Homo sapiens: one gene and its partners. The protein of the gene in region 3 purifies or fractionates together with the protein of the main gene of each other region. This does not show direct contact. Each region holds a gene or a part of one and is shown on either strand. Other genes may lie near its edges.

Region 1 (3,652 bases), on a different chromosome or scaffold from region 3:
TTAAGGCTGCAGTGAGCCATGATCATGCCACTGCACTCCAGCCTGGATGAGAGAGTGAGACCCTGTCTGAAAAAATAAAAAAAAAAAATACCTGGACAGGACTAATCACAGGGCAGGAGTATGATGGTTGCTGCAAGGTGCTCTGGGAACAATCATATATTCATTCAACAAATGTTGATGAGTGCCTTCTGAGTGCCCAGGGCCTGGGGATTCAGCAAGGAAGGAGTCTACTCTGTCCTCCAGGGATTTAGAGCAGAGCAGGTGGTCATAACGCAGGATGACATGTGTTGTGGGAGGCTTAAGGAGAAGTCCCCAACCCAGGCCCAGGCAGGGAGCATGGTACAGGAAGCTCTCCTGGAAAGGAGGTGGCGTTGGAACTACTGAGCTTCATCTGGAAGGATGAATAGGCCAAGGGGGCGGGATTGGGAATGATATTTCTGGCCAAGGGTGCAGAATGTGCAGTGGCTTGGAGGCAGGAAGCAAGGCGTGCAGCCTGGGGCCTGGGCTGGGGATGATAGTGAGCCTTAAGAGGTAAACACAGACCGGTCACCAGCAGTCTGGGAATGTCAGGCTAAGGAGAGAGCATTTTCTCCTGAAGTGGATGGTGATTCAGAGAAGAGTGTGAGGCAGCAGAGGGCTGGAAGCAGATGTTTTCATTTCAGAGAGATGTCTTTGGCAGCGCCAAGTAGGGTGGATGGGAAGAGCAGGCCTAGAAGCAGGAAGACCAGTGAGGAGGCTGGGGAGAAACCTGAGAACTAAGGCTGTGAGCTCTGAACTTAGGCTGCAGAGAGGATAGAGTTGAGAAATATGAATGTGAATAGGAGGTGGAGTCCATCAACCTTGCTGGTCGATTGGACCTTTGCCAGGTATCTGGTGTGTGTTAGAATTACACGCATAATCTCAATGAATTCAACTGTAATCTAGTAGTGTAGTCATTGTTGTCCCCATTTTGCAGATGAGGAAACAGACTAGAAGAGATTAAGTATTTGTTCACTGCCATTCAGCCAGCAAGCATAAGAACCCAGGCCTATTGACCCACAAAGCCCTCTCTGCTACTCGACGCTTTTGCCCAAGAGAGGGGGCCTTGTCTGGCTCACAGTTGGCCTCCCCAGCAGCTCCCAGCCTCAAGTTGTGCGTCCTTTCTGGGCCTTGCCGTTTCCACTTACTCAACAGACAACATGAAGGATCAGATTTAGACAACAGGAGGGACTTCCTGAGAGGCAGTGGTAGGGAATGGAATTTCCTTTCCTGCAGATGAACTCCTCTTTTTTCAGAGAAAGGAGGGTGATGAGGACATGTAATCACCAGCTCTCTGTGAACTTTGGCTGTCATTTCTCTTGGTGGTTAAGCCCTGTGTGACCCATCTTGGCTGGAACATGGGGAAGTCCTGTGGCTTTGGCCAGGGCTGCTCATGGGGCCGCTGGGAGTGGTAGCATCAAGTCTGGCCCACTGTCTCTGATCCCTGATTCCAGGCCGGCCTCTGGGCTTCAGACTTCTCCACTGCTCTCTTCCTTCCAAGTTTGGGCCTCCTTGCCTGAGGCTGACGCCTCCCGTTGGCATGGGTCCAGAGGTCCTGAGTTGTGGGCTTGCCACTTCCAGGGCTTCTGACACTTTGGGTTGGTGGCAGTAGAACAGCAGGCTGGGAGTCAGCACACCCCAAGTGAGGTCCTGGCCTCTACACAGCCATGCTCCGCTACTGCCAGAGTGCCCGCGCCTACCATCTGGCTGAGGCCTGCATGGCTGGGAGCAGCTTGGTGAGGGAGCCAGGGCAGTCTGTTATAGGCTGGACGTAGTGGGGCTTCTGCATAGAAGGGTCTGGATCCTGGGGTAAGAATCAAGGTGCGAGGCAGGGCTTTGGAAATGTGGATGAATGACATCGCATAGGGAGGAGGTATAGAGTATGAAGAGAGGATGATTAGGGACAGCCAGGGCCTTGGAGAGCACCAGTGCCTGGGTATGGAGAGAAGAGGGAGGAAACTGACGGAAGGCCATATTCTTGGAGCCAAAGAAGCAGGGACAGACCCACAGAGGATGAGCTGGAGCGAGACCCCTCAGATTCAGCCAGAAGGCATTAGCTGGTGGCATGGGTTTTGGTGGAGTGGTGAGGGCAAAACTAGGCTACAGCGGGCAGAGAGGAGTGGGAGGGGACCCTGCTTTTCTACATGCCTGGAGCAAGGCTTGAGCCTCTTGGAGGAAGGGCGTGAGGCCCTGGGCTGGGAGCAAGCAGTATGGCGGCAGGCAGTGAAGACTGGGTATGGGAACCTAGGGGTTTTATCTCATCCACCCCCTCCCTCTGCCTTATGTCCAGAGGCAGAAGACCACTGCCCTGTGCTCTCCTTTCAGGCTCAGGCTGAGGGGTTGTGAAGTGTGAGCTGGTCCTGGGGAAGACATGTAATGTGCTGGCTCCAGAAAGGAGGGGCTTCTGACTCAGGTGGGGGACTTGGAGGAAGGCTTCTTTGAAGAGGTGACCCCGGAGCTGGGTGCTGGAGTATGAGAAAGACTTAGGCAGGAGTAAGGTGTTCTAGACAGAAGAAAGAGCCTAGGCCAAGGTGCAGATACTGGCTGCAGGTGTGGGAGTGTGAGGGGTGAGGCTGTGGAGGAAGGGACAGCCTTGGCCAGCAGGTCTTGGATGCTGGAGGGGGTGGTTTCAAGGTACTTTCTTATTCATTCATACCTCAGGCTGAGTGAGCTCCCCATTTGGTAAGCAGCTTGTGGTTCAGGGCTATTTCTGTTTCTCAGTTGATGCTTCCTTACCCACGCTGGGTCTGCTTCCCCAGGAGATGCCTGGCAGAGGTTTGCTGAACTGGACTGAAAATTTTTTTCCCTTCTTGCCTCTGCTATCGGTCCAGGGACTCCCTAAGTGCTGAAATTAGGCCTTTCCCATTAGTGAATCGTAAGACTGAAAGCGATATTTCCCACATTAGGCAAGTTCTCAAAAGAGAGGGGTGGGGTCCTGACTCCTCCATCAGACTGGGAAGTCCTGAGGGACAGGGTTATACCACTCCTATTAGCATGGGGCGCCTGAGCGGGAGGCCTGGGGCTCCCTCATCTGATTGGCTTTTGCAGGTGGGAGCCATGTCTCCCTCCTCAGACTGGAGGCTTCTGAAGGAAGGATGTCTCCTCCATCACACCGGGGGCTCCTGAGGTTGGGGCCTTGTCTCCCATGTGAGCCCTGGGATTAGAACAGGTATCGTCTCAGATGGTCCCTGGGCACCCTGTGTTCTTCCCTCCTATGTGGACAGGATGGTTCCTGTCCCAGGGGTGGCTTGAGTCCTAGTAGGGGGTTGGAGAACAGAGGGGGTTGGCAGGACAGGGTGGCTGCTTTTGAGAGGGTAACAAAGGACTCTGTTGTCCCAGCCCCCTCCCGCCTTCCCTAAGGGGCCCTGGCAGGGTCATCTCTCGGGAGACGCGCCTCCTCCTTCCTGGGACTGGCCCCATCTTTAGCCCCACTTCAGAAGAACTGCTTGTTCCTTCCCAGGAGACCTGGTGCCAGATGAAGCCCCTGGGAGTTGGACAAGACAGGTCCCCAGAATTGTGTGTGACTAAGGTCACCGCAGGAACTGAACAGCTTTTCCTCTGCCTGGGGCTGGGCGGCACCTGGCTGAGGCCACAGTTGAGCTTCTGCCTCCCTGCACCTGGAGAGGGATCTGCT
Region 2 (3,652 bases), on a different chromosome or scaffold from region 3:
TCTTTTTCTTTTTTTTTTTTTTTTTCAGTAGAGATGAGTCTTGTTATGTTGCCCAGGCTGGTCTCAAACTCCTGGCCTCAAGTGATATTCTCCTGCCTCAGCCTCCCAAGTATCTGGGATTACAGGCATGAGCCACCAGGCCTAGCTGTCTGCTATCTTTTTAAAATGAATCCTCCCCTCCATAACTTTTCTCCCACTGTAAAGTTTTGCATTTGACATTGAAGCCTTTAATCCAGTTGATTTTTTTACATGGTGTGATGTGAGGCAGGGATCCAAATTCAATTTTATTCTACATGGAAGTCCCAGCCACATACTCCTAAGGATTTATTTATTCATTTATTTTTTGAGCCAGAGTCTCTCTCTGTCACCCAGGATGGAGTGCAGTGGCACAATCTCGGCTCACTGCAACTTCCACCTTCTGGGTTCAAACAATTCTCGTGCCTCAGCTTCCAAAGTAGCTCAGACTACAGGCGCACACCACCATGCCCAGCTAATTTTTGTGTTTTTAGTAGAGATGGGGTTTTGCCACGTTGGCCAGGATGGTCTTGAACTCCTGACCTCAAGTGATCACTGGTCTTGGCTTCTCAAAGTGCTGGGATTACAGGCGTGAGCCACCGCGCCCAGGCACTCCTGAGGATTTACCCTAGCCAAATGCATGTGGGTATACATCAGGAGATGCATTTATATAAAGTGTATGTAACAGTCCAAAATAGAGGCATCCCACAGTCCATTAACAGGAGAATTAATATTTTAAAACTGCTATACCATCTTAGTAGCTGAAGTACGAAATTGCTGATATTTAACTATTTTTTTGCTTTCAGAAAGAGGCAATTCGATATGGCTCAGTCTAACATAATGGATTACTAAACAGGAATAAATATGAATTAACTATAGCTTGTCACAACAAAATGGATGAGTCTACCAAAACAATGCTTTTTTTAGTTTGGTTTTGTTTTTTGCATTTTTTTGTAGGGTGGGGTTTCACCATGTTGCCCAGGCTGGGTTCAAATTCCTTGGCTCAAGCAATCCCTCCACCTCGGCCTCTCAAAGTGCTGGGATTACAGGCATGAGCCACTATGCCTAGCCCCTAAACAATGTTGAATGAAAGAAGCCATGTGATAGAATAGTCTGTATGAGCCTGTCAATATAAAGTTCTAATACCAGGCAAAATTAAACAAAAGTTTTTGGGGATGCAAACATGGGGTTCTACAACTACAAATTATAGCAAGGAAATGATAAAAGTCGGGAGAGTAGCCACCTCTATGGCAGAGGAAGGAGATGGAATTGTGGAGGAGACAAGAGGGGGCTTCTGGAGAGCTGGAAATATTCTATTTCTTTTCCTTTTTTTTTTTTTTTAAGATGGGGTCTCGCTCAGTTGCCCAGGCTGGAATGCAGTGGTGCAATCACAGCTCACTGTAGCCTTGACCTCCTGCGCTCAAGCAATCCTCCCACTTCAGCCTCCCAAGTAGCTGGGACCGCAGGCACAAGCCACCATGCCCACGCCTGGTTAATTTTTGGTTGGCTTGTCTTCTCTTTTTTTCCCTTTAGTTTTTTTTTCTGTGACACAGATTCAGGAGGGCCTGATGACATGTACCCCCAATTTTTTTTTTTTTTGAGACAGAGTCTTGCTCTGTCACCCAGGCTGGAGTGCAGTGGCGCGATCTCGGCTCACTGCAAGCTCTGCCTCCCAGGTTCATGCCACTCTCCTGCCTCAGCCTCCCGAGTAGCTGGGACTACAGGCGCCCACCACCACGCCTGGCTAATTGTTTGTATTTTTAGTAGAGTTGGGGTTTCACTGTGTTAGCCAGGATGGTCTCGATCTCCTGACCTTGTGATCCACCCGCTTCGGCCTCCCAAAGTGCTGGGATTACAGGCGTGAGCCACCACACCTGGCCATATGCCCCAATTTTTAAATTATTTGTAAAGACAAGGTCTTGCTATGTTGCCCAGGCTGGTCTTGAACTCCTGGGTTCAAGTGATCCTCCTACAAATACCAAAATGCTGGGATTCCAGGCATGAGCCGTGGCACCTGGCTGCCATATTCTATTTCCTAACGCAGGTGGTGGTAATATGGGTGTCTGCTCTCCTGTTACTCTTCTCCACACTCCCTTTTTTTTTTGTACATACGTATTAATTTTCTTTCTTTTTCCTTTTTTGCCATGAGATTACGAATCAAATTTTCTTTTAAAAAAATTATGGCCAACATGGTGAAACCCCATCTCCATAAAAATACAAAAATTAGCCGGGTGTGGTGGCGCACGCCTGTAATCCCACCAGCTATTTGGGTTGGCTGAGGCAAGAGAATCGCTCAAACCGAGGAGGCAGAGGTTGCAGTGAGCTGAGACGGTGCCACTGCACTCCAGCCTGGGCAGCAGAGGAGAATCTGTCTCAAGAAAAAAAAAATTATGGTAAAATACATGTAACATAAAATTTACCATCATAATCACTTTAAAGTGTCCATCCAGTTCAGTGGCATTAAGTACATTCACATTGCTGTGCAACCATTACCACCATCCATCTCCAGAACTTTCACCTTACAAAACTGAAACTCTGTCCACATTAAATAATAAACTCCCCATTCCCCCTCCCTCTACTCCCTGGCATCCATCATTCTACTTTCTGTCTCTATGAATCTAACTACTCTAGGAACCTCATATAACTGGAATCATACAATATTTGTCTTTTGGGGACTGGCTTATTTCACTTAGACTAATGTCCTCAAGATTCATCCGTGTTGCAGGATAAGACAGGATTCCTTTCCTTTTTTTTTTTTTTTTTTTTGAGACAGTGTTTCACTCTGTCACCCAGGCAGGAGTGCGGTGGCATGATCTTGGCTGACTGCAACGCCTGCCTCCTGGGCTCAAGCGGTTTTCCTACCTCAGCCTCCTGAGTAGCTGGGATTACAGGCATGTGCCACCACACCCGGCTAATTTTTGTATTTTTAATAGAGATGGGGTTTCACCATGTTGGCCAGGCTGGTCTCGAACCCCTGACCTCAAGTGATCCACCTGCCTCGGCCTCCCAAAGTGCTGGGATTACAGGCATGAGCCACTGCGCCTGGCAGGATTTCTTTCCTTTTTAAATCTGAGCAATGTTCCATTGCATGGCTGGCCCACGTTTTGTTTACCCATTCATCTATTGGTGGATCTGGGTTGCTTCCATTTTTGGCTTTCATAATGCTGCTATGAACACAGGTATACATATCTCTGAGACCCTTTTTTTTTTTTTTAAATATTTTTCTATCACTATTTTTAAAACTGACAAATAAAAATTATATATATTTATCATGCACAACATGTTGTTTTGAAATATGTATGCATTATGGAATGTCCGAGGCCCTGTTTTTAATTCTTTTGGGGATATGCCCAGAAGTAGCTTTGGATCATATGGTTACTCTTGTTTTTTTGTTTGTTTGTTTGTTTTGAGATGGAGTCTCATTCTGTCACCCAGGCTGGAGTGCAGTAGCATGATCTCTGCTCACTCCAACCTCTGCCTCCCGGATTCAAGCAATTCTCCTGCCTCAGCCTCCAGAGTAGCTGGGACTACAGGCGTGCACCACCACCAAGCCCGGTTAACTTTTGTATTTTTAGTAGAAATGGGGTTTCACCATGATGGCCAGGCTGGTCTTGAACTTCTGACCTCAGGTGATCCA
Region 3 (3,652 bases):
AAGTTTCTTGGTACCAGCGCTGCTTCCTGTGTGGGATGTAGAAAATCGTACTTAATGTTTCTACGTCTTGCATCACTAGTGGAAGAATTAGAACGGCTGGAAATCTGGAATGGCTGTTTCATGATACCAGTAACTCATCAGAATTGAAATTTGTATGATTATTAGAAATTTTTTGCTGCTCTGGATTTTGTGTGAGGAAGTGCCCTGGCTTCATTTATGTTGAGTTTACATGAAGAACTTACTAGAACAGAGGAAAACTCATGAAGTGTGAGACCACTCCTGTGTGTAAGATGAGCCTATTCAAGTCAGCAGTAGTTCCCATGATAAAGGGATATGTGGTAATGTCTTCCTTTGGGAGTTAATGTCTCCCTAATGCAGGGCTTTATTTTTCTTTTTAATTGGTAGCTGTATCGGTGAGTCTTTCAGCACCTGAATTGAAAACCAGCACATACGTAGGAACATCTAGTTTTTAGTCATCAAAAAAGCCAGTGTGATACTAAATTAAAATGTACATTGTAGAAGTAAAAACAGGACTCGAAGATGATTAACCTGGGCAGCAAGTTGAGTCCTTGTACCTCCAGTGTTTCTCATACTGCATTTTAAAATTAATTCCATGAATTTGAGAGATATTTTTTAAGTGACTGGAAATCTTTGCAATTCATTTTTCATAAGATCACAAAAATTAAATAGGATGAGTCTGGATCATCTAGAATGAAACTTTAAAGGAGCGAAAAGAAAGGCAAATGATGTTTGCAAGTGACTAATACTTAAAGAGCCAGGCTGCTTAATGTTTCGGTCAAGAAAATCCCATAAATGCAACAATATTTTAATAATAGAAAAAACCAACTTGGTCTCGAAGGTAAAAGTTTGGGGTTTTAAAAACCATTATCTTCAAAGAATCAGTTAACTATTAAACTCTGTTTAAAACAGGCATTATGTATTGACTCTACCATAATCTTTATTTATGTCTAGATTTAGGTAGGTAAAATATGGTATCTTTGAGAAAATGAAGTATTTCCTTTTAAGCAAATGTTCTCAAAATTTCCAAGGGTAAGTGAAGTGATTATTATATTACTTATAATGGTTAAGGCAGCATTCAAAAGATGACAGTTTTAAAAAGGAGTAGGTGGAGAATATGTACTTTTAAAGAACTTCTTGCTTTTCTAAGATGAACATTTTAAAGATATATTTTGGATACAAGTTGCCTTGTAATTTTCACCAGGACATGAAAAGTTTTTATTAGGTTGTTTCTTTGTATGCTAATGTATCATGTTGATACCTTTATAGGTATTCTTTTTTTTTTTTTTTTTTTTTTGAGATGGAGTCTCACTCTGTCTTCCAGGCTGGCACTCAGCTCACTGCAACCTCCGCCTTCCGGGTTCAAGCGATTCTCCTGCCTCAGCCTCCTGAGTAGCTGGGATTACAGGGATGTGCCACCACGCCCAGCTAATTTTTTATTTTAGTAGAGATGGGGTTTCACCGTCTTGGCCAGGCAGATTTTGAACTCCTGACCTTATGTGATCCACCCACTTTGGCCTCCTAAAGTGCTGGAATTACAGGCATGAGCCACCACACCGGGCCAGTATTCTTAAGCTTTCTGACTGGCATGGCCCAATTTAAGATCTGATGTCCCTAAGGCAACTTGACCAGAACTCTGGATAGGGGCTTCTAGGAAAATAAAGTGACCTGGAATATGTGTGTCACCTTTTGATTTGCATTTACTTAGGTGTACTCTCCTTTTTTCATAGTTGGCACACAGCGAGCTAGCCCTGAGAATATGGGTTTTGAGGTTAGCCAGACTAAATCCTTCTGATACATTATCAATTTTTACTCCTATTCAGAATATCAGGGACTATTTTAGGAAATATTCTGTTTCAAAAGGTTATCTTTGTGGTAACTTTGTACTTTTAAAATCTTGCCACAATAATTTTGATTTATAGCACACGTGTAATATTAACCACTCTTTCCTTCTTAGATCCATGTTCACTAGCGGCCTTACAGAAAGTACTCAAAAAGAAGTTCGAATAGTTGGTGTTGAAGCTGAATCGATGGATTTAGTGTTGAACTATGCCTACACTTCCAGAGTTATTCTTACAGAGGCCAATGTTCAAGCCTTGTTCACTGCAGCTAGCATCTTCCAGATTCCTTCCATCCAAGACCAATGTGCTAAGTATATGATCAGTCATTTGGACCCACAGAATTCTATTGGGGTCTTTATCTTTGCTGATCATTATGGTCATCAGGAACTCGGAGATCGATCAAAAGAATACATTCGTAAAAAGTTTCTGTGTGTCACCAAAGAACAAGAGTTTCTCCAGTTGACAAAAGACCAACTGATAAGTATACTAGACAGTGACGATTTAAATGTAGACCGAGAAGAGCATGTTTATGAAAGCATTATAAGGTGGTTTGAGCATGAACAGAATGAAAGAGAAGTGCACCTTCCAGAAATTTTTGCTAAATGCATACGTTTTCCTCTGATGGAAGATACCTTTATAGAGAAAATTCCACCTCAGTTTGCACAGGCTATAGCCAAAAGCTGTGTAGAAAAGGGACCATCCAACACCAATGGCTGTACACAGAGGCTTGGAATGACTGCTTCTGAAATGATCATATGTTTTGATGCTGCCCACAAACACTCAGGAAAGAAGCAAACAGTGCCTTGTCTAGATATAGTCACAGGAAGGGTGTTTAAACTATGCAAACCACCAAATGACCTGAGAGAAGTTGGGATTCTTGTATCACCAGATAATGACATTTACATTGCAGGAGGGTACAGGCCAAGCAGCAGTGAGGTCTCCATCGACCATAAGGCAGAAAATGATTTCTGGATGTATGATCATTCCACCAATAGATGGCTATCCAAACCATCCTTGCTTCGAGCCAGAATAGGCTGCAAACTTGTCTATTGCTGTGGTAAAATGTATGCAATCGGAGGTCGTGTTTATGAAGGTGATGGGAGAAACTCACTAAAATCTGTTGAGTGCTACGACAGTAGAGAGAATTGTTGGACGACTGTTTGCGCGATGCCAGTTGCAATGGAATTTCATAATGCTGTGGAGTACAAAGAGAAGATCTATGTTTTACAGGGTAGGTGCCTAAGTGATTTAGTTTTTCATGGAAGGGTAACACATCAAGTGGTGGTTTACTTAATTATACTGAAACAGTTGTGTTCCCGTTAATTGAGGAATACCTCCAGCTTCCTTATCAAACTATTGGAACAGTCTGTTCTGTAAAGAGCTATAAAGAAAATAAACTCTTGAATTAAAAAAAGGCAGGTATTGTTAAATTACTAAAATAATCCTATAATTTTTAATGATTTTGTGTCTTGATATCATGTAGAATAACTATTTTTGAAAACATTCTTTAATAAATAATAGTTCGGCATTTTGGGATAACTATTTCAGAGTAGTTTGTAGGACTTGAAATAAATAGCAAGGTTGTTACATGGCTGTTTTTGCTCTTGAGTAAAATTGAGATGTTGTAGCAACTGGTATTCTGTGGAATTTACTGGATTAGTTTAAAAGAGAAAAGAACAAAGCATTAATTAAGTTATACTATTTAGTTACCAAAGAGTTTTATATAAGCCTTATTATTGCAAAAATTATGAAATTTAATTACAAAGAGTTTGGAAGTATGGTCTTCAAGTTTC

What was found.
Region 1: the proteins of KBTBD8 (region 3) and ARRB1 purify together in Homo sapiens (affinity purification with western blotting, with the first as the bait; one study listed by BioGRID). This does not show direct contact.
Region 2: the proteins of KBTBD8 (region 3) and PKN1 purify together in Homo sapiens (affinity purification with western blotting; 3 studies listed by BioGRID and IntAct, with this or other methods). This does not show direct contact.

What each region holds. Positions count from the first base shown.
Region 1 is NC_000011.10:75,345,033-75,348,684, reverse strand, and holds part of ARRB1 (beta-arrestin-1), read left to right. Parts: intron 1-3,652. UniProt on the Homo sapiens protein: Functions in regulating agonist-mediated G-protein coupled receptor (GPCR) signaling by mediating both receptor desensitization and resensitization processes.
Region 2 is NC_000019.10:14,453,670-14,457,321, reverse strand, and holds part of PKN1 (serine/threonine-protein kinase N1), read right to left. Parts: intron 1-3,652. UniProt on the Homo sapiens protein: PKC-related serine/threonine-protein kinase involved in various processes such as regulation of the intermediate filaments of the actin cytoskeleton, cell migration, tumor cell invasion and transcription regulation.
Region 3 is NC_000003.12:67,001,220-67,004,871, forward strand, and holds part of KBTBD8 (kelch repeat and BTB domain-containing protein 8), read left to right. Parts: intron 1-1,975; coding exon 1,976-3,090; intron 3,091-3,652. UniProt on the Homo sapiens protein: Substrate-specific adapter of a BCR (BTB-CUL3-RBX1) E3 ubiquitin ligase complex that acts as a regulator of neural crest specification.